Linked DNA regions of Homo sapiens: region 1 is linked to region 2. The links come from fine-mapping of genetic effects on gene expression. A gene starts in region 2. The other region holds a variant in brackets. All regions are shown on one strand. Distances are from middle to middle.

Evidence for each region. PIP is the estimated chance that this variant, and not a neighbour inherited with it, causes the effect.
Region 1: its variant is fine-mapped to the expression of CYB5D1 in whole blood (TOPMed, PIP above 0.99).

Annotation. Positions count from the first base shown.
Region 1 is chr17:7,889,161-7,898,194 of GRCh38, forward strand. CHD3 (chromodomain helicase DNA binding protein 3) reads left to right here. Exons shown (of 40, transcript NM_001005273.3): 2 at 504-616; 3 at 1,411-1,581; 4 at 1,780-1,904; 5 at 4,126-4,409; 6 at 4,645-4,775; 7 at 4,955-5,105; 8 at 5,255-5,448; 9 at 5,757-5,990; 10 at 6,179-6,382; 11 at 7,923-8,134; 12 at 8,811-8,942. Among named protein-coding and RNA genes, the nearest start is that of CHD3, 4.9 kb to the left of the region's middle. RefSeq lists enhancers at 61-630, 4,588-5,787. The variant T/A (reference allele first, on the strand shown) is at 4,419.
Region 2 is chr17:7,853,445-7,862,410 of GRCh38, forward strand. CYB5D1 (cytochrome b5 domain containing 1) reads left to right here and starts at 4,559. Exons shown (of 4, transcript NM_144607.6): 1 at 4,559-4,850; 2 at 4,959-5,035; 3 at 5,162-5,380; 4 at 5,938-8,838. The coding sequence starts at 4,691. The coding sequence ends at 6,168. KDM6B (lysine demethylase 6B) reads left to right here. Exons shown (of 24, transcript NM_001348716.2): 24 at 54-1,352. The coding sequence ends at 77. TMEM88 (transmembrane protein 88) reads left to right here and starts at 1,622. Exons shown (of 2, transcript NM_203411.2): 1 at 1,622-1,840; 2 at 2,001-2,655. The coding sequence starts at 1,631. The coding sequence ends at 2,270. It overlaps NAA38 (N-alpha-acetyltransferase 38, NatC auxiliary subunit), which reads right to left and starts at 4,115. Exons shown (of 3, transcript NM_001320925.4): 1 at 3,939-4,115; 2 at 3,571-3,754; 3 at 3,241-3,399. The coding sequence starts at 4,019. The coding sequence ends at 3,287. RefSeq lists enhancers at 1-308, 2,541-3,078, 3,200-3,279, 3,812-4,674, 3,930-4,299 and 3 more.

The DNA.
Region 1 (9,034 bases), 36 kb after region 2:
CAGGGTGTTAGTGTGAGAACCCAGGTGTCCACCTTTGGCTCTCCCTCCCCAGCATCTGGCTTAGGGAGCTGCCAGCTTGTGTCTCCCCACTCCAAGTGCTGGGGTCAGGCCAGGCCAGCAGCTGGGCATGGCTTCCCCAGTTCCTGGGCAGGATGCCAGCTGGCGAAGTGAGGGGGAAGGCAGGAGGAGCCCTGGCGGTGACTGAAAGGACCTGCCACAGTCAGAGCCCATGGCCTGGAGCCTGGTCTCTTGTTAGTAGGAGGGGAGGGAGGGGAGTGGTTTGGCTGCTCTTCTCTTCTGACCCCTGACCTCCCATTCAGAACCAGAGCATCCCAGAGTACTCGAAACACTTTCTGTTTGCATCCAGTGAAGGGAGGCAGGGCTTGGAGGAGTTAATGCTTCCTAGAGAGTGGGAACTGCCGAGGTGGGGAAGGGGCAAGTTGAGGGGCCTCAGAGGCTGGAAACCTAGAGGCTTAGGTTTTCTGATGCTTTTTGCTTCAAAGATAAGGATGACATTCGGCTGCTGCCGTCAGCATTGGGTGTGAAGAAGAGAAAACGAGGACCCAAGAAGCAGAAGGAGAACAAGCCAGGAAAACCCCGAAAACGCAAGAAGCGTGTAAGTGTCAAGAATTCCTAACTCTGTGGCAAGGCTCAAGAGACCCATTCTCAGAGACCTACATTTTCTCTGGTCCTGATTACTGGTGTGGGGGTGGGGTTCTGAAGCCAGGGAGGCTTGATCCCCCGGGCCCCCCACTTCCCTGCCACTGTTGGCCTGTATCTCAGGGATCTGGGACCCTAACTTCATTCACTGCAACCTAGTGAAGAGCCTCGTTGTCAGTGTGTCCTCAGCAGCAAAGAGAAGCAGTTGAAAGCACAAGCTCTGGAAGACTGTATGAATTCAAGAGTCCAGCATTCCTCTGTCTAGGATACCAGGCCGTTTATTTGGCTCTCTGTGCCTTAGTTTCCTCATCTGTAAAAAGTAGATAAAGGCCGGTTGCAGTGGCTCACGCCTGTAATCCCAGCACTTTGGGAGGCTGAGCCGGGTAGATCATTTGAGGTCAGGAGTTCGCGACAAGCCTGGCCAATGTGGTGAAACTCCGTCTCTACTAAAAATACAAAAATCAGCCGGGCGCGGTGGTACGTCTGTAATCCCAGCTACACAGGAGGCTGAGGCAGGAGAATCGCTTGAACCCGGGAGGTGGAGGTTGCAGTGAGCCGAGATCACGTCAGTGCACTCCAGCATGGGTGACAGAGCAAGACTCCATCTCCAAAAAAAAAAAGGAGATAAAAAATTAGTTACTATCACAGGATTGTTGTGAAGATTAAAAGAGGTAAGATATGGTATGTGCTGAGAACAGTTTCTGGCAATGGTAGGGATGAATAAATGTTATTTTTATTTCTTTCTCTTAGGACAGTGAGGAGGAATTTGGTTCTGAGCGAGATGAGTACCGGGAGAAGTCAGAGAGTGGGGGCAGTGAATATGGAACCGGACCGGGTCGGAAACGAAGAAGGAAGCACCGAGAAAAAAAGGAGAAGAAGACAAAGCGGCGGAAAAAGGGGGAGGGAGATGGGGGGCAAAAGGTGAGTAGAATTAGGGAATGAGAGTGAGAAATCTGCATTAAAGACGGGCATGAGGAGGGGAGGAATGGAGACTGGACTGGAGAATGGGGCAAGAAGCAAGAAAGCCCAGGGAAGCTAGTGGGTAGGTAGACAGGCCTGTGTGCGGCCTGGAATAGGGGCTGGAGGAGCACCTACTTCACCAAAGCCCCTCTCCCGCAGCAAGTGGAACAGAAGTCATCAGCAACTCTGCTTCTGACCTGGGGCCTGGAGGATGTGGAGCATGTGTTCTCTGAGGAGGATTACCACACGCTCACCAACTACAAAGCCTTCAGCCAGTTCATGAGGTGCGGTAAGACTGGGGAATCCTCGCTAATTGACACTTTTAATTTGAGGGAGGTCCTGGACCCCTTGGAATCTGATGAAAGCTATGAAACTGCTCTCCAGAGAATTCACGGTGTATACACACCAAATTCTACACGTCATTTCAGGGAACTCCTAGACTCATAAGGATCCAAGAACCCCAGTTGAGAACTCTTCACTGAGGGGCGAGGGGTGGAGGGGCCATCATGATTCCAGTGCTGGGTTAGAGAACTCTTTAGCAACAGAATAAAGTGAGGACAGAATATAGTGAGCCCTCCCCTGCCCCAACAGCTCCATCTTCTGCTCTGTGACTTCTCTCTAGACTGGACCTGAGAGATACCATCAGTGTTCCTGAACTTCCTTAGCTCACTTAGCAGGTCCTGTGCCCCTTCCTTAGGCCCTGGTAATAATGGAGGGTCCACTGCTGGCAGTGGGACCTGAGCTTCAGTGGCTCCTGAAGAAAAGTAGAGAATAGTAGAGTAGAAAATAGCAGAGATGGGCCAGGTGCAGTGGCTCATGCCTGTAATCCAAGCACTTTGGGAGGCCAAGGCAGGTGGATCGCCTGAGGTCAGGAGTTCAGGACCAGCCCATCCAACATGGTGAAACCCCGTCTCTACTAAATACAAAAAAATTAGCTGGGCGTGGTGGCACATGCCTGTAATCCCAGCTACTCGGGAGGCTAAGGCAGGAGAATCGCTTGAACCCGGGAGGCAAAGGTTGTAGTGAGCCGAGATCACACCACTGCTATGCTCTAGCCTGGGCAACAAGCGAAACTCCGTCTCAAAAAAAAAAAAAGAAAAAATAGTGCCGATGTATTTTGTTTTGGGGAGAAGGCACTTTAACATATCAGTTCAGTGCTCTGGAGGCAGCTGCTGAGGTTCACATCTGGTTACATTTTGGGCAAGTGACTGAACTTCTTCAATCCTCAATTTCCTCTTCTATAAACGGGGAATAATAATATATACCTCATAGGAATCTGTGTGGGTTTGGTGGGATAATGAATGGAAAGCACAGTACCGTCAGTGCCTGGCTCCTAGGGAGCATTCAGTAACTGGTGACTGTCATTAGTAACGTTGTCTCACCTACCTTACTGCTGAACTTGGGGCTTTTCTCAGCACCATGGATCACCCGTGTCCGCACAAGAGTTGAGCACCCCACCCCAGAGCAGAACCAGCATGGTCTGACTCTTTCACACTCCGTCCTACGGAAGCCCATCTTCAGGGCCCATGGAACTTACTAGTAAAATGCAGAGAATCATAGCAACTCAAGAGTATTATTGTGAGGACAAGATAAGGTGGAATGTATGTGAAAGGGTTTTATGAACTGTAAAGTAGTATACAAAAGTAAAGCATTTTTGTTGATTTTATTTTAACCTTTTATGCTTTTAAGTTTTATTTCGCTGTTTTTTATTTCCCCTTTTTTTTTTTTTTTTTTTGAGATGGAATCTCACTCTGTCGCCAGGCTGGAGTGTAGTGGCGCAATCTTGGCTCACTGCAACCTCTGCCTCCCAGGTTCAAGCAATTTTTCTGCCTCAGCCTCCCGAGTAGCTGAGACTACAGGTGCGCACCACTACACCCAGCTAATTTTTGTATTTTTAGTAGAGACGGGGTTTCGCCATGTTGGCCAGGATGGTCTCCATCTCTTGACCTCGTGATCCTCCCACCTTGGCCTCCCAAAGTACTGGGATTACAGGCGTGAGCCACTGCGCCCAGCCTATTTCCCTTTTTTTAAAGACAGGGTCTCATTCTGTCACCCAGGCTGCACTGCAGTGGTGTGATCATAGCTCACTATATCCTCCAACTCCTGGGCTCAAGCCACCCTCCTGCCTCAGCCTCAGGTGCTGCCACACCCAGCTAATTATTTTTTTTTATTTTAATTTTTTGTAGAGACAGGATCTCACTTTGTTGCCCAGGCTTATCTCATAGCCCTGGGCTCAAGCAATCCTCCTGCTTCAGCCTGGAATTACAGGCATGAGCCACCGTGCCTGGCCTGTATTTCTTTTTTAATGCTTTTTTAAACCTGTTCTTTCCCCGCTTTTTTTAAACTTCTTTTTATTTATTTTTTTAAATGGCTGTTTTTCCTAATAGGACATATTCTCACCACCCAGGAATCCTAGCATGTACATAGATTTAATTGATGAGGGGAGATGGCAGTGTTCCCAGACCATCTGTGAAGGGTCCGAGTTTTCTGCTTCTATATTTACAGGCCCCTAATTGCTAAGAAGAATCCTAAGATCCCAATGTCTAAGATGATGACCATCCTTGGGGCCAAATGGAGAGAGTTCAGTGCCAACAACCCCTTCAAGGGGTCAGCAGCTGCTGTGGCGGCGGCAGCGGCAGCAGCAGCAGCAGCTGTAGCTGAGCAGGTGTCAGCTGCTGTCTCGTCGGCCACCCCCATAGCACCCTCCGGACCCCCCGCCCTTCCACCACCCCCTGCTGCTGATATCCAGCCCCCACCCATCCGAAGAGCCAAAACCAAAGAGGGCAAAGGTAGGGAAC[T/A]CTCTTCCAACAACTGTCATCTCACCTTCCAAACTGCATGTCTTCACATTAGAGTCTGGAACTCTCGCCTTCCCAGCCCTGATTGCTGGAGGAGAGATGCTTTCCAGGAAGTGGGGCTTAGTGAAACCACAGCCCACAGAGGAATCCAGAGGCCCCTGTGACCTCCATAATTCCAGGATGTCATGACCTCTCCTTTTTCCTCTTCTCACCCCGACTCCTCATTCAGGTCCAGGCCATAAGAGGCGGAGTAAGAGCCCCCGAGTGCCTGATGGACGCAAGAAGCTTCGGGGAAAGAAAATGGCACCACTCAAAATAAAACTAGGGCTTCTGGGTGGCAAGAGGAAGAAAGGAGGCTCGGTGAGTGACCCGTCCCTGTCTACTAAACACCTGGGGGCCAAGGATCCAGAGACAGGGATCCGTGAGGGCCAAGGATCCAGAGACAGGGATCCGTGAGGGATGGCGGAACAGGAAGCCAAAGGCCTGGGGAGGGCGTAGAATGAAGTCTGCCTCACTGACGGCCACGGGGCTATGGGCAGTATGTTTTTCAGAGCGACGAAGGTCCTGAACCAGAGGCTGAGGAATCAGACCTGGACAGTGGCAGTGTCCACAGTGCCTCAGGCCGGCCTGATGGCCCTGTCCGCACCAAGAAACTAAAGAGAGGCCGGCCAGGAAGGAAGAAGAAGAAGGGTAAGGAGTGTTGACTGTGTGTGATCCTGTCAGTGGGCCGTCCTCTCATTCTTATTTTCAATTTTGACTTCTCTCTTCAACCCTTCTCCCTCTCTCTCTCCATCTCCCCCTGCCCTGCTTCCTTATCCCTCCACCGGGGTATATGACAGTCCTGGGCTGTCCTGCAGTGGCCGGGGAGGAGGAGGTTGATGGCTACGAGACGGATCACCAGGATTACTGTGAGGTGTGCCAGCAGGGTGGGGAAATTATTCTGTGTGACACCTGCCCTCGTGCCTACCACCTCGTCTGCCTTGATCCTGAGCTTGACCGGGCTCCAGAGGGCAAATGGAGCTGCCCTCACTGTGTGAGTACCTAATGCCAGCATCTGATGGCCCTGAGGAACCCACCCATCTCTTTCCCCCTTGGTTTCACTTACCCTCTTCCTGCCCCCAGATGGCTGGACTTCTTAGTAACAGATGTCCGAGTGTCTAGGATCCTAATGTATTCCTTTCTCCCACAATCAACATTTCTGAAACTGGAGTGTCCTTTTCCTTAGTTCCCACCAGTCTTCTCTGCACTTCTAGGATTCAGGTGTCCTGTCTTTGCCTGTATCTTCCAGTTTCATTCCTTAATTTCTTCCATCTGTCTGTGTGTCTATCCTTGGCCCCCTAGGAGAAGGAGGGGGTCCAGTGGGAGGCCAAGGAGGAAGAAGAAGAATACGAAGAGGAGGGAGAGGAAGAAGGGGAGAAGGAGGAGGAGGATGATCACATGGAGTACTGCCGCGTATGCAAGGACGGCGGGGAGCTCCTGTGCTGTGACGCGTGCATCTCCTCCTACCACATTCATTGTCTAAACCCTCCCCTGCCTGACATTCCCAATGGTGAATGGCTGTGTCCCCGATGCACAGTGAGTGGAAACATCTCCCCTCTGTATTTACTGTCAGGCCTGATCCCTTCCCCCATCCCTGGGGCCCACATGTCCAGCTTTTCATTTCTCTGCACTCCCCCACCCTTGTGGGACCCCTATCTTCTCATCTAACAATGGGTTCTTTCTGCCTCTTTCTTTCCTCCTCCTTGTACGTGTCCATCCCAAAGTGCCCCGTGCTGAAGGGTCGAGTGCAGAAGATCCTACATTGGCGGTGGGGGGAGCCACCTGTAGCAGTGCCAGCCCCTCAACAGGCAGATGGAAATCCAGATGTCCCACCCCCCCGTCCTCTTCAAGGCAGATCAGAGCGAGAGTTCTTTGTCAAGTGGGTAGGACTATCCTACTGGCACTGCTCCTGGGCCAAGGAGCTTCAGGTACTAGGACCTTTTCTTTCCCTCTCCCCCATGACCTCATTTCCTGCCATCCTCTCCCTCTCTTACTCCTCTGTTTGTTGGGTTCCCATACTCTTTGTTTTCTCTCATTTCAGGCCTGTGGCCTTCATACCCTACTTGCTTAGTTTCCATATGTGGTTCTTTTGGTCTACAGTCCTCTTTCTCTCAGTCTCCGTTAGCTTCCTTCCCTCAGATATAGCATAGCCTTTCCTAACTTCATGTCCTTCCTTATCTGTCTTTTTCCATGTTTTATAATATTCCTGGCTGGGCATGGTGGCTCACACCTATAATCCTAGCACTTTGGGAGGCCAAGGCAGGAGGATTGCTTGAGACCAGCCTGGGCAACATAGTGAAACCCCATCTCTGTTTAAAAAAAAATTCTCGGCTGGGTGTGGTGGCTCACGCCTGTAATCCCAGTACTTTGGGAGGCCGAGGTGGGCGGATCACCTGAGGTCAGGAGATCGAGACTATCCTGGCTAACATGGTGAAACCCCATCTCTACTAAAAATACAAAAAAATTAGCTGGGCGTGGTGGCAGGCACCTGTAGTCCCAGCTACTCAGGAGGCTGAGACAGGAGAATGGCGTGAACCCGGGAGGCGGAGCTTGCAGTGAGCCAAGATCGTGTCCCTGCACTTCAGCCTGGGCGACAGAGCGACACTCTATCTCAAAAAAAAAAAAAAAAAAAAAAAAATTCTCAATGTTTCTAATCCCATTCCCTATCTCTTGCTTGTAAGAGCCCCACCCAGGCCTTGTCTTCTGAAACTGTTGCATCTGTTTCATTTTATTTATTCTCCGTCTTGGCTTTGACTCATTTATCTCTAATCCATCCTTTTTCTTTTTTTTTCTATTTTTTTTTTTTTTTAGATGGAGTTTCGCTCTTGTTGCCTAGGCTGGAGTGCAGTGGCACGATCTTGGCTTACTGCAACCTCTGCCTCCTGGGTTCAAGCGATTCTCCTGCCTCAGCCACTCAAGTAGCTGGGATTACAGGCATGCGCCACCACGCTTGGCTAATTTTGTATTTTTAGTAGAGACGGGGTTTCTCCATGTTGATCAGGCTGGTCTCGAACTCCCAACCTCAGGTGATCCACCTGCCTCTGCCTCCCAAAGTGCTGGGACGCGCCTGTTATTCTCTTATTGCCCCGGCTGGAGTGCAGTGGTGTGATCTTGGCTCGCTGCAACCTCCGCCTCATGCATTCAAGCGATTCTCCTGCCTCAGCCTCCTGAGTATCTGGGATTACAGGCGTGCGCCACCACACCTGGCTAATTTCTGTATTTTTAGTAGAGACGGGGTTTCGCCATGTTGGCCAGGCTGGTCTTGAACTCCTGACCTCAGGTGATCCACCCGCCTGAGCCTCCTAAAGCACTGGGATTACAGGCATGAGCCACCGTGCCTGGGCCAATCCATCCTTTTTCATAGCTCCCTTTCCCTGTCCCATTCCTCCTGCCGGCCTCTTCCCGGTTCCTTGTTGTCCTCTGTGAGTGTCAGGACTATCTCTTTCCCTTTTTTCTGTGCCCTGCTAGCTGGAAATCTTCCATTTGGTTATGTATCGAAACTACCAGCGGAAGAATGACATGGATGAGCCCCCACCCCTGGACTATGGCTCCGGCGAGGATGATGGGAAGAGCGACAAGCGTAAAGTGAAAGACCCGCACTATGCTGAGATGGAGGAGAAGTACTATCGTTTTGGCATCAAGCCAGAGTGGATGACCGTCCACCGCATCATCAACCACAGGTGAATCCTCGGTCCCTGGGAAGTCAGACCTGGTATATGACATTATTCTTACCATGGTGATGGCCCCATGTTAGTATTTGCTGATTAACCAGGTAATTGATCTAACCTTGATAACCTCTGCTGTAGCTCCAGCCTTTCTGGCCTTGTTTCCTCCAGGGGAACGGGAGAAAACAGGAGGAAAATCCGGCCAGGCAGTGCCTCTTTTGTCCTTTGCCTCCTGTCATCTCCAGTGGCATAAGACATAGCACATGAGTCTGGGGATGAGGGCATGAAAGCAAAACATGAGAGACATAATTCATCCAGACCAGTGTTTTGAATGTTTCTTCTTCATAGTACTTATTACTGCCTAAACTTAATGGTATGTATTTAGTTATTTCAATGCTGCCTTCCCCACGAGACTCTGAGTTCCATGAGGAAAATACTTAGTGATTAGGTGAACAAATGATAAGGAGGGATCTCCAGGAATGTTTTGTGATAGCTGATTTTTAGGATACCATCCTGAGAAGGTTAGGCTGCTAGGTCAACTATTCCAATCTCCCTTCCAGCAGCTCACTGTTGACGGTTGGGTGACAAATTTTGTGTGTTTGCTGATAATTGCGTTTCTCAGGCCTTCTTTCTGTTTGTGATCTGTGCAATATTTTCCTCCTGCTCCTCCCCATGGCCTCCTGCCCCACAGTGTGGATAAAAAGGGGAATTACCACTATCTAGTAAAATGGAGGGACTTACCATATGACCAGTCCACGTGGGAGGAAGATGAAATGAATATCCCTGAATACGAAGAACATAAGCAAAGCTACTGGAGACACCGGTGAGGGAATGAGCTTGTGGATTCAAGGGATTCTGACGATGAGGGCATGAAAGCCAAAACTCCAGCATAAAATGAGGGTACAGTAGGGCCTG
Region 2 (8,966 bases):
TCGGGAGCCCGGCCGCGCCTTTCCCTGAGCCCCCGCCGGCTTTCTCCCCCCAGGCCCCAGCCAGCACGTCGCGATGAGGCCGGACGCCCCGCCCGCCTGCCTGCCCGCGCAAGGCGCCGCGGGGCCACCAGCACATGCCTGGGCTGGACCTAGGTCCCGCCTGTGGCCGAGAAGGGGGTCGGGCCCAGCCCTTCCACCCCATTGGCAGCTCCCCTCACTTAATTTATTAAGAAAAACTTTTTTTTTTTTTTTAGCAAATATGAGGAAAAAAGGAAAAAAAATGGGAGACGGGGGAGGGGGCTGGCAGCCCCTCGCCCACCAGCGCCTCCCCTCACCGACTTTGGCCTTTTTAGCAACAGACACAAGGACCAGGCTCCGGCGGCGGCGGGGGTCACATACGGGTTCCCTCACCCTGCCAGCCGCCCGCCCGCCCGGCGCAGATGCACGCGGCTCGTGTATGTACATAGACGTTACGGCAGCCGAGGTTTTTAATGAGATTCTTTCTATGGGCTTTACCCCTCCCCCGGAACCTCCTTTTTTACTTCCAATGCTAGCTGTGACCCCTGTACATGTCTCTTTATTCACTTGGTTATGATTTGTATTTTTTGTTCTTTTCTTGTTTTTTTGTTTTTAATTTATAACAGTCCCACTCACCTCTATTTATTCATTTTTGGGAAAACCCGACCTCCCACACCCCCAAGCCATCCTGCCCGCCCCTCCAGGGACCGCCCGTCGCCGGGCTCTCCCCGCGCCCCAGTGTGTGTCCGGGCCCGGCCCGACCGTCTCCACCCGTCCGCCCGCGGCTCCAGCCGGGTTCTCATGGTGCTCAAACCCGCTCCCCTCCCCTACGTCCTGCACTTTCTCGGACCAGTCCCCCCACTCCCGACCCGACCCCAGCCCCACCTGAGGGTGAGCAACTCCTGTACTGTAGGGGAAGAAGTGGGAACTGAAATGGTATTTTGTAAAAAAAATAAATAAAATAAAAAAATTAAAGGTTTTAAAGAAAGAACTATGAGGAAAAGGAACCCCGTCCTTCCCAGCCCCGGCCAACTTTAAAAAACACAGACCTTCACCCCCACCCCCTTTTCTTTTTAAGTGTGAAACAACCCAGGGCCAGGGCCTCACTGGGGCAGGGACACCCCGGGGTGAGTTTCTCTGGGGCTTTATTTTCGTTTTGTTGGTTGTTTTTTCTCCACGCTGGGGCTGCGGAGGGGTGGGGGGTTTACAGTCCCGCACCCTCGCACTGCACTGTCTCTCTGCCCCAGGGGCAGAGGGGTCTTCCCAACCCTACCCCTATTTTCGGTGATTTTTGTGTGAGAATATTAATATTAAAAATAAACGGAGAAAAAAAATCCTGTTTCGCTAACGGCTGGTGGTAGCAGGTTGAGTACCGGGAGGGCTGCAAGACCGTGATTGATGGGGAGGACTGCGCAGACCCTGGCGAGGGTGAGCCCCTCCCCGGAGGCGCCTGTGGAATGTCCAGGGCTCTGGTCCGCTCCTCGGGATGGGGGGTGCCTAATCCTAGAGCCGCATTCCAGGATAAGGGGGGTGGGGAGAGGCTGGGCCGGGGGAGGGGCAGGAAAGAGGGCTATAAGGGCAGCGGCCCAGGCGGGCGGGATCCAGGCGGGCCATGGCGGATGTCCCCGGGGCACAGCGAGCGGTTCCTGGTGACGGCCCAGAGCCCCGGGACCCCCTGGACTGTTGGGCCTGCGCTGTTCTTGTAACAGCCCAGAATCTGCTGGTGGCTGCCTTCAATCTTCTCCTGCTGGTGCTGGTGCTAGGGACCATCTTGCTACCCGCTGTCACCATGCTGGGCTTCGGCTTCCTCTGCCACTCTCAGGTGAGCGTGCGCCCCGGGGTGTGCGTGTGAGTGTGAGTGTTGGTGTGTGGTGATGCTGGCGGTGGGGTCTATGGGCCACAACTTCAACCCGCCTGGGCTGTTTCCACCCCGTGCACAGTATCGCCTGGTCGGCTTGGGCCTGACGCCTCTTCTCCCACAGTTCCTGCGCTCCCAGGCACCCCCTTGCACCGCGCACCTGCGGGACCCCGGTTTCACGGCCCTACTGGTCACCGGATTCCTGCTCCTCGTGCCGCTGCTCGTGCTTGCTCTGGCCAGCTACCGCCGCCTCTGCCTGCGCCTCCGCCTAGCCGATTGCCTCGTGCCCTACAGCCGAGCCCTTTATCGGCGTCGGCGCGCCCCGCAGCCGCGGCAAATCCGGGCCTCACCAGGGTCCCAGGCCGTTCCCACATCAGGAAAGGTCTGGGTCTAATGACCCTCGAGTCAAGAACAACCCTGACGGCTGCCCTCCCTCTTATTCGGCCCAAGGACTTGAAGCCCGGCATCTTCCGACCTGCCCTGCCCCCACCCCTGCCTGAGCGGAGTCCTAGCATCCCCTTGGGAGCAGCAGCGTCAGTGGACCCAGTGCTGAGAAAAGCCCCCACATCCCGGAAAACCCACTTTCCTTTCACGACCCACATCTCAATCCTGAACATCTAGGCTGGAACCTGCACACCTCCCCCTCAGCTCCGTCGTGAATGGGACAACAATCTCGTGCCCTCGTTTTATGGTGCAGCTTCTCTAGTATTTCTGGGGCTGGGGGGCGGGGCTGGAGGGGAAGGAGTGTCCACGCATCAATAAAGATTTAACGAACTGAACGCGCTCTGCGAACAGAGGCGTGGCACAAGTACTATCACCCCTGCCCTGTGCCGAGGAACAGGAAACATGTGCCAGGGCTACAAATGAGCAGAGAGGAGCATCCTTGAGCCCCCTGGCCTTATCGCTTTTGTCCGTTCTTCCTGGCCAGACCTCAGAGATCTGTTCCTGACCCCAGGCACCTCCCCCTCAATAGAGTGGAGGGGCCCAGCCTCGGCCGCCTGCCGCTGCTCCCCTTGGGGACCTGAGCCCGTTCTCTGACCCCAGCTTAGAGGAACTCGGTGTTGCCAGGCCGGGGTGGGAAACAATGGGCCTTCCGGAGCAGGATGACACCCCCTCCCGCCACAATTCTGGAGCAGCAGCCGTGGGAGGGAAGATGCAGGGGCCCACCCTGGGGCCTGTTGGTCCGTCATTCAGCCCTGCCCCCCATCTCTACCCCTGAACTTGAGAGAACCTTTGGCACCCCTGGACATCTTGGTTGGGAGAGGAGGGTTGAGGGTGCTCCCGACTTCAGATGAGCCCTTTCCTCTAGGGATGGGGTGTGCTATCCTGCACCGGCATCCCAGCTACACACAGACACAGGCCCATTCGGTCATAAGTTTAATGAAGTCTGAAAGGTAAGCGCCATCGTGGTCAGAGATACGGAGGCCCGGTCAGACTCTCCCTCTGCACCTCAATGGAAACGATGTGGTGTCCGGGTACCATGGCCAGGCCCAGCACACGGGGCTCCCCGGCAGAGAAGGAATCTGGAAAGAAGGATCAGAGCATCAGGAAAGTAGGCCAGAATCAGTCCCGCCCCTCTGAGCCACGAAAACGAGCCCCAGAAAACAAGGGTTGCAGCCAGGCCCTTAAGGGGAAATGCCTTGCGTAAGGTTCCGCCACATTACCAGGCGGGTGTGCATTCCCCGGGCACTGACCCGACGGCTTGAGGAACTCCTGCGCCGAGCCCAGGATGACATTGCAGTCACGGTCAGTGCAGAGGAAGCAGCCGACCAGTGTCCGTCCATCTGTCATGCGAATGCGCATAGTCTTGTTGAGCAGCGCCTCTAGCTGCTGTCGGGCGCGCTCAGCCGCCGAGTCCTCGCGCTCTCCGTCCGAATCCTGCGCGGGGTGTAACAAGCGCTCAGACCGCGCAGCCCAGGCTGCCCGCCCGCGGAACCACAGCTCCCGGCAGCCCGCGGGGCACTCACACAAAGCCCAGAGGCTGCCGGGAGCTGCAGTTCCCCACCCCCTCCATCTTGCTGCTTGACTGCCCCTCAGTCCCAGAACCAGAGCCCGTGCTAACCCCAGCACTGGAGCTGCTCTGACGCCGACTGCAACAGCCATTCTCTTCTCGTAGCAGCATGGTCGGTCCAGCTCCGGCCATTTGCCCGGAGGCCTCCTCTGGGCCTTTCAACTTCCTAAGCACCTTTCAGGTTGGGTGGTCCGAGATCTCGCGAGCGCTCCCGACCTCTTTCCTTTCGCGAGATCCCCTCTCCTCCCCCTCCTAGTCTCCTCGGCAACGGCACAGATCTCGCGAGCTTCTCCTACTTCTCTAGCGCTGTGGCTCACTGAAGCGTACTACGCCGGATGTCTTAAGATATCGCGAGACCTTTACCTCTGGTTTCTTACACATCCTTTAGAAACTGGAATTTAGCGAGAATACATTCTTTCATACTGCCTCCTCCCTTGTTTTTCTGTCTCAGAGAGATAGTCTGTCCTAAATATCCCATGTAGCCCAGGCCACTGAATTAAAACGGAGCGTATTCGTTCTCTGCCCCACCCCGCAACTCCTGAAAGCGGCGCAACTCAATTACTTGATCCTTATATGCCCCACGCGGGACTCATACTACGTTTCCCGTGAACACGTGCAGTCCAAACCCCGCCCCTGATATTTATCTCAGTGGACGGTGGCCGGAAAAGGACAATGGTTTCCATGTCAGCGGATAAACGCTCTCCCCTCGGCTCCCGGACGCGACGGAGGTCGTAGTAGTAGTGAGTACGTGCTGAGGAGCAAAGGAGTAACCAAGAGATCCAGTGACCGACAGAGCAAGAGCCATGCCGCGCCGGGGCCTGGTGGCTGGGCCAGACTTGGAGTATTTTCAGCGTCGCTATTTCACGCCGGCGGAGGTGGCCCAACATAACAGGCCCGAAGACCTCTGGGTATCTTACCTGGGACGCGTGTACGACCTAACGTCATTGGCACAGGAATACAAGGGTAAGGGCCACACGTTGGGCCGGGGCCGGAGTGTGTGTGTGTGCACGCGCGCGTTTGCCTGGTTCTCGAAGGGCTGGCATTGACAGTGGCTGTGCTGCTCTTTTCAAGGGAACCTGCTGCTGAAACCCATCGTGGAAGTTGCAGGCCAGGATATCAGCCACTGGTTTGATCCAAAGACCAGAGACGTGAGTTATGCTGGAACCTGGGATTGTGGGTAGAGGAAATGGAGAGCGGGGATGGGAAGGAAAGGCGGAGGCTAGCCAGAGCCTAATGGCTGCTCTGACACCCTCGCCCCAAACCCTCCTTTAAAGATCCGCAAGCACATAGATCCGCTGACCGGCTGCCTGAGGTACTGCACCCCGCGGGGCCGCTTTGTGCACGTTCCGCCTCAGCTGCCCTGTTCGGACTGGGCCAACGATTTTGGGAAGCCCTGGTGGCAGGGGTCGTATTATGAGGTGGGGCGGCTGTCTGCCAAGACCCGGAGCATCCGCATCATTAACACGCTCACGTCGCAGGAGCACACACTGGAGGTGAGAACTGGTGACAAGGAGCAGGTTAGAAGGAATGGGGAATCCCAGCAAATCTCCAGGCCGATCTTCAGGGCAACATTTTTTCCATAACCGGTGGGAGTGTATTTTCTGTCCTTTACATTGAGGCAACTGAGGAAAGCACAGCACCTAGGTCCCCAGGGTTGGGAATTCTAGGAGTGTCTGGGTCACAGGGGGACAAGAGACTCCTTTATAAGCCTGGGAACAGCAGTTCATGTATCTTAGTGATGGTGGTCCTTCGAAGCTCTTACACGCCGTTTTGGACAGCAATTGGACTTTCTTTTTAATCTACTCTGTTGCATGGATATAGTGAGGGGACAGTTGACCCTTTATGGCCATCCGGTAGTTAGAAGTGGCTGCCATTAAGATCTGTAGGACTTTAGGGTCTGCTCATTGCATGCTGGAGTTTCAGCTTTTTTTTCCCGGGGCCGTAGAGTACCTGAAGCTGCTATCTGCCAAGGGAGGCACTTTGATCCCAGCGTGTGTATATGTATACTCCATCCAGAATTCTGGGGGTGGGGTGCTTCTGTGTTCTCCAGGTGGGGGTTCTGGAGTCCATATGGGAAATCCTACACCGCTATCTCCCCTATAACTCACATGCTGCCAGCTACACGTGGAAATATGAAGGGAAGAACCTGAACATGGATTTTACCCTGGAAGAGAATGGGATCCGGGATGAGGAGGAAGAATTTGACTATCTCAGTATGGACGGTACACTTCACACACCTGCAATACTTCTGTACTTCAATGATGATCTCACGGAGTTGTAGGCAAGGAGATGTACACTCGTGTAGACTCAAGACGTATTTCGAGTTTGGCTTTTTCTGTGCCTTGAGGAAAAGTGGTGGGGCCGAGGGGTGCCTGGACCCAGATCTCCACTCCTCTCCAGGAGCTAGCCTGTGCCCTTCTGAAGTGTAAAGGCCCTATTCCCTGCCTTCATTACAGTTTGCTCTGAGAAAATTAGTGAATTAATCTTTGGGAATGATACAAGAAGATCAAGTACCTTGGTTTAGGGAGATGTAGAAGAGGATAGTCAGAGTTCAGGCAGAACTGTTTGATAGTTAAGAGAGAGTAGTTCTACAGGGGTGAGGGATGGAAGGACTTTTTTGGCAATGATGGAAATGAGATGTCTGCAGGAAGATGGGATTTACAAAGAAATAGGAAATGTTTATCATTGACCATACAAAGCTGGCTTATCTTACTTGTAGAAGAGTGTTTGGCAGCTGAAACCCAAGGGAAAGAAAGGAAGTGCGTCATTATAGGCAATTCAGGCTAGATATTATACTAGGTACTTCATATACCCTCTTTTTTTTTTTTGCCCCCAACAAAGAGAAGGGGTCTTGCTCTGTCACCCAGTCTGGAGTGCAGTGGCAAAATCATGGCTCACTGCAGCCTGGAGCTCCTGGGCACAAGTGATCCTCCCATCTCTGCCTTGAGTAGCTGGGACTTCAGGTGCACGCCACAATGCCTAATTTTTTAATTTTTTGTAGACACAGGGTCTCGCTGTGTTGCCCAGGCTGGTTTCAACCTCCTGGCCTCAAGTGATCCTCTTGCCTCAGCCTCCCAAATAGCCTCTTCAAGACAACTACCCCATAAGGTGGATTACCATTACTATGTTACAGATAAGTCCTTCGAAACTTTGGAAAGTTTAATAGCTCAAAGCCACACTAGGTAGTAACCACTAGAGCCAGAATGCAAATTCAAGTCTGCCCAACTCCAAAGTCCATGTTCTCTCAATATAAAGGGACCATCTCAATGTCTAATCTCATGTTAACATTTGTAGCCACTGCTCTCAGCAAGTATTTGGGATGTGGCTTTGTCCTAGGATCCCTGCACAATAGGAAATTGTGGTCCTATTGTATAGTTTGCAGTTATTGTCTCTGGAAGGGAGTTTGCAGAGTTCTCCTGTGGCGAAGAGGAGGCAAGGAAGGCTAAGTGTCAGTTAAGCAATAGCTATTGGGGCTACTTCTTTGTTAATCCCATACCCCAGATTTCTCTCCTGACCTTTTGGGGCAAAGAGGTGGGTATTTACTAACTTGAAGGAAAACTAGAGTGGGGAAAAGGCCGGCAAATTAGTGACACTTTGGCGAGGGAGAAAAAGGAGGCAGTTTGCCACTTGGAGAAGATGAGGAAGACAGGGTTGCAAGACGGTGACTCCAAAAGAGGGAGCTCGACAGGGGTAATGTAAACAGAGATGCTAACTAAGTCAGAAAACTCTCCTGGTGACCAAAAGAGAACCACTATTGGGGGTAATGGCTAGATTTGGTCTCCTTTAACTTAAGGAGGGGAGATTTGAGAATGACAGACAGTTGAACTTCCTGGCAGCAGCAAGCAAAAAACAAATCAGGAAGAGTTTAGTGTGTCTTCTGGCAGGGGACACCAGGGCCCAGCACAGGAGAAGGTGGCCCCTGTGAGATACTGGTGGGCTATATAGGCATTTTCTGAGGGGCTTTGGGAGGCATGAACAAAGGTGGAAACATTGCTGTTGGCTTCGGCAGTATCTGAATTTACTGTGAGATGGAGGGTTTAAATCTAACCCCATGGAATGCAGGAGTCCATGAATTATCTAAATCGATCATTTTGATCTTTAATCAACTCTGCAATTATGTGTACCTTGTTTGCTCAATTAAACCCTGAACTATTTGAGAATGAAAGCTATGCTGTTCCTCTAGTGCAAGCCTCAGGGCCTGTCCTGTGCCTACAGGATGTCCCCATTCTGCCAAAACCTGTCCCTCTTCCAGAGACTCCTACTTCAATGTCTCTTGCTAGAAACACATCCCTTTCCTCACACATCCAGTCACTCATCAAGTGTAATCTGTCTCCTAAATATCTCTGGAACCTATCTTCTTTTCTCCAAGTTACCATCACCTCTTGTCTAAACTGCTACGGAAACTTCCTAACCTGTTCTCCCATTTCCACTTCTGACTTCCATGCTGCAATGAGAGTCAGCTATGAAAAACAAACCTAAACATCGAACTTTCCTTAGCTTCTTCAGTGGCTTCCAACTGCTTTTGGAATAAAGTCCTAAATTCAAAGATCTTGTATAAATCAGGCTCATCTCGCAACACCCCTCTTTGTTCTCTATGGCCTAGACACACTGGCTTTCAGTTCATTACATGTCTTGCCTCAGACCCTCACACACTGTCCTCTCTGCCTGCAACACTCTTCCTTTCACTTTCCACCTAGCTGATCCTAAATGTTCCTTCCTCAGGGAGGTCTTTTCTGATTTCTTGGTGGGTCAAGACTTTCTGATAAATCAGTTAGCACCATGCATTTTCCAGAGTTTTTATTACAATTGTAAAATTATGGCTGTAATAGGCTGGCTGCGCTGCTAGATTGTAAGCTCACGAGGGCAGAGATCTTGTTCACATCTTGCTCACTGCTATATTCTCATTGCTGAGCACACAGTTGCAGCTCAATAAATTTTGAATGAACTCCAATGTTAAGTGAACTCATCCGTCTATACCTAGTGGGGGGGATGTTGTGTCCTAGTAGGCAAGGAAGGACCAAGAAATAGGATGTCTGGTTCCTGTGCTATAGTCTCTATCCATAGGATTCACTTTCCTTG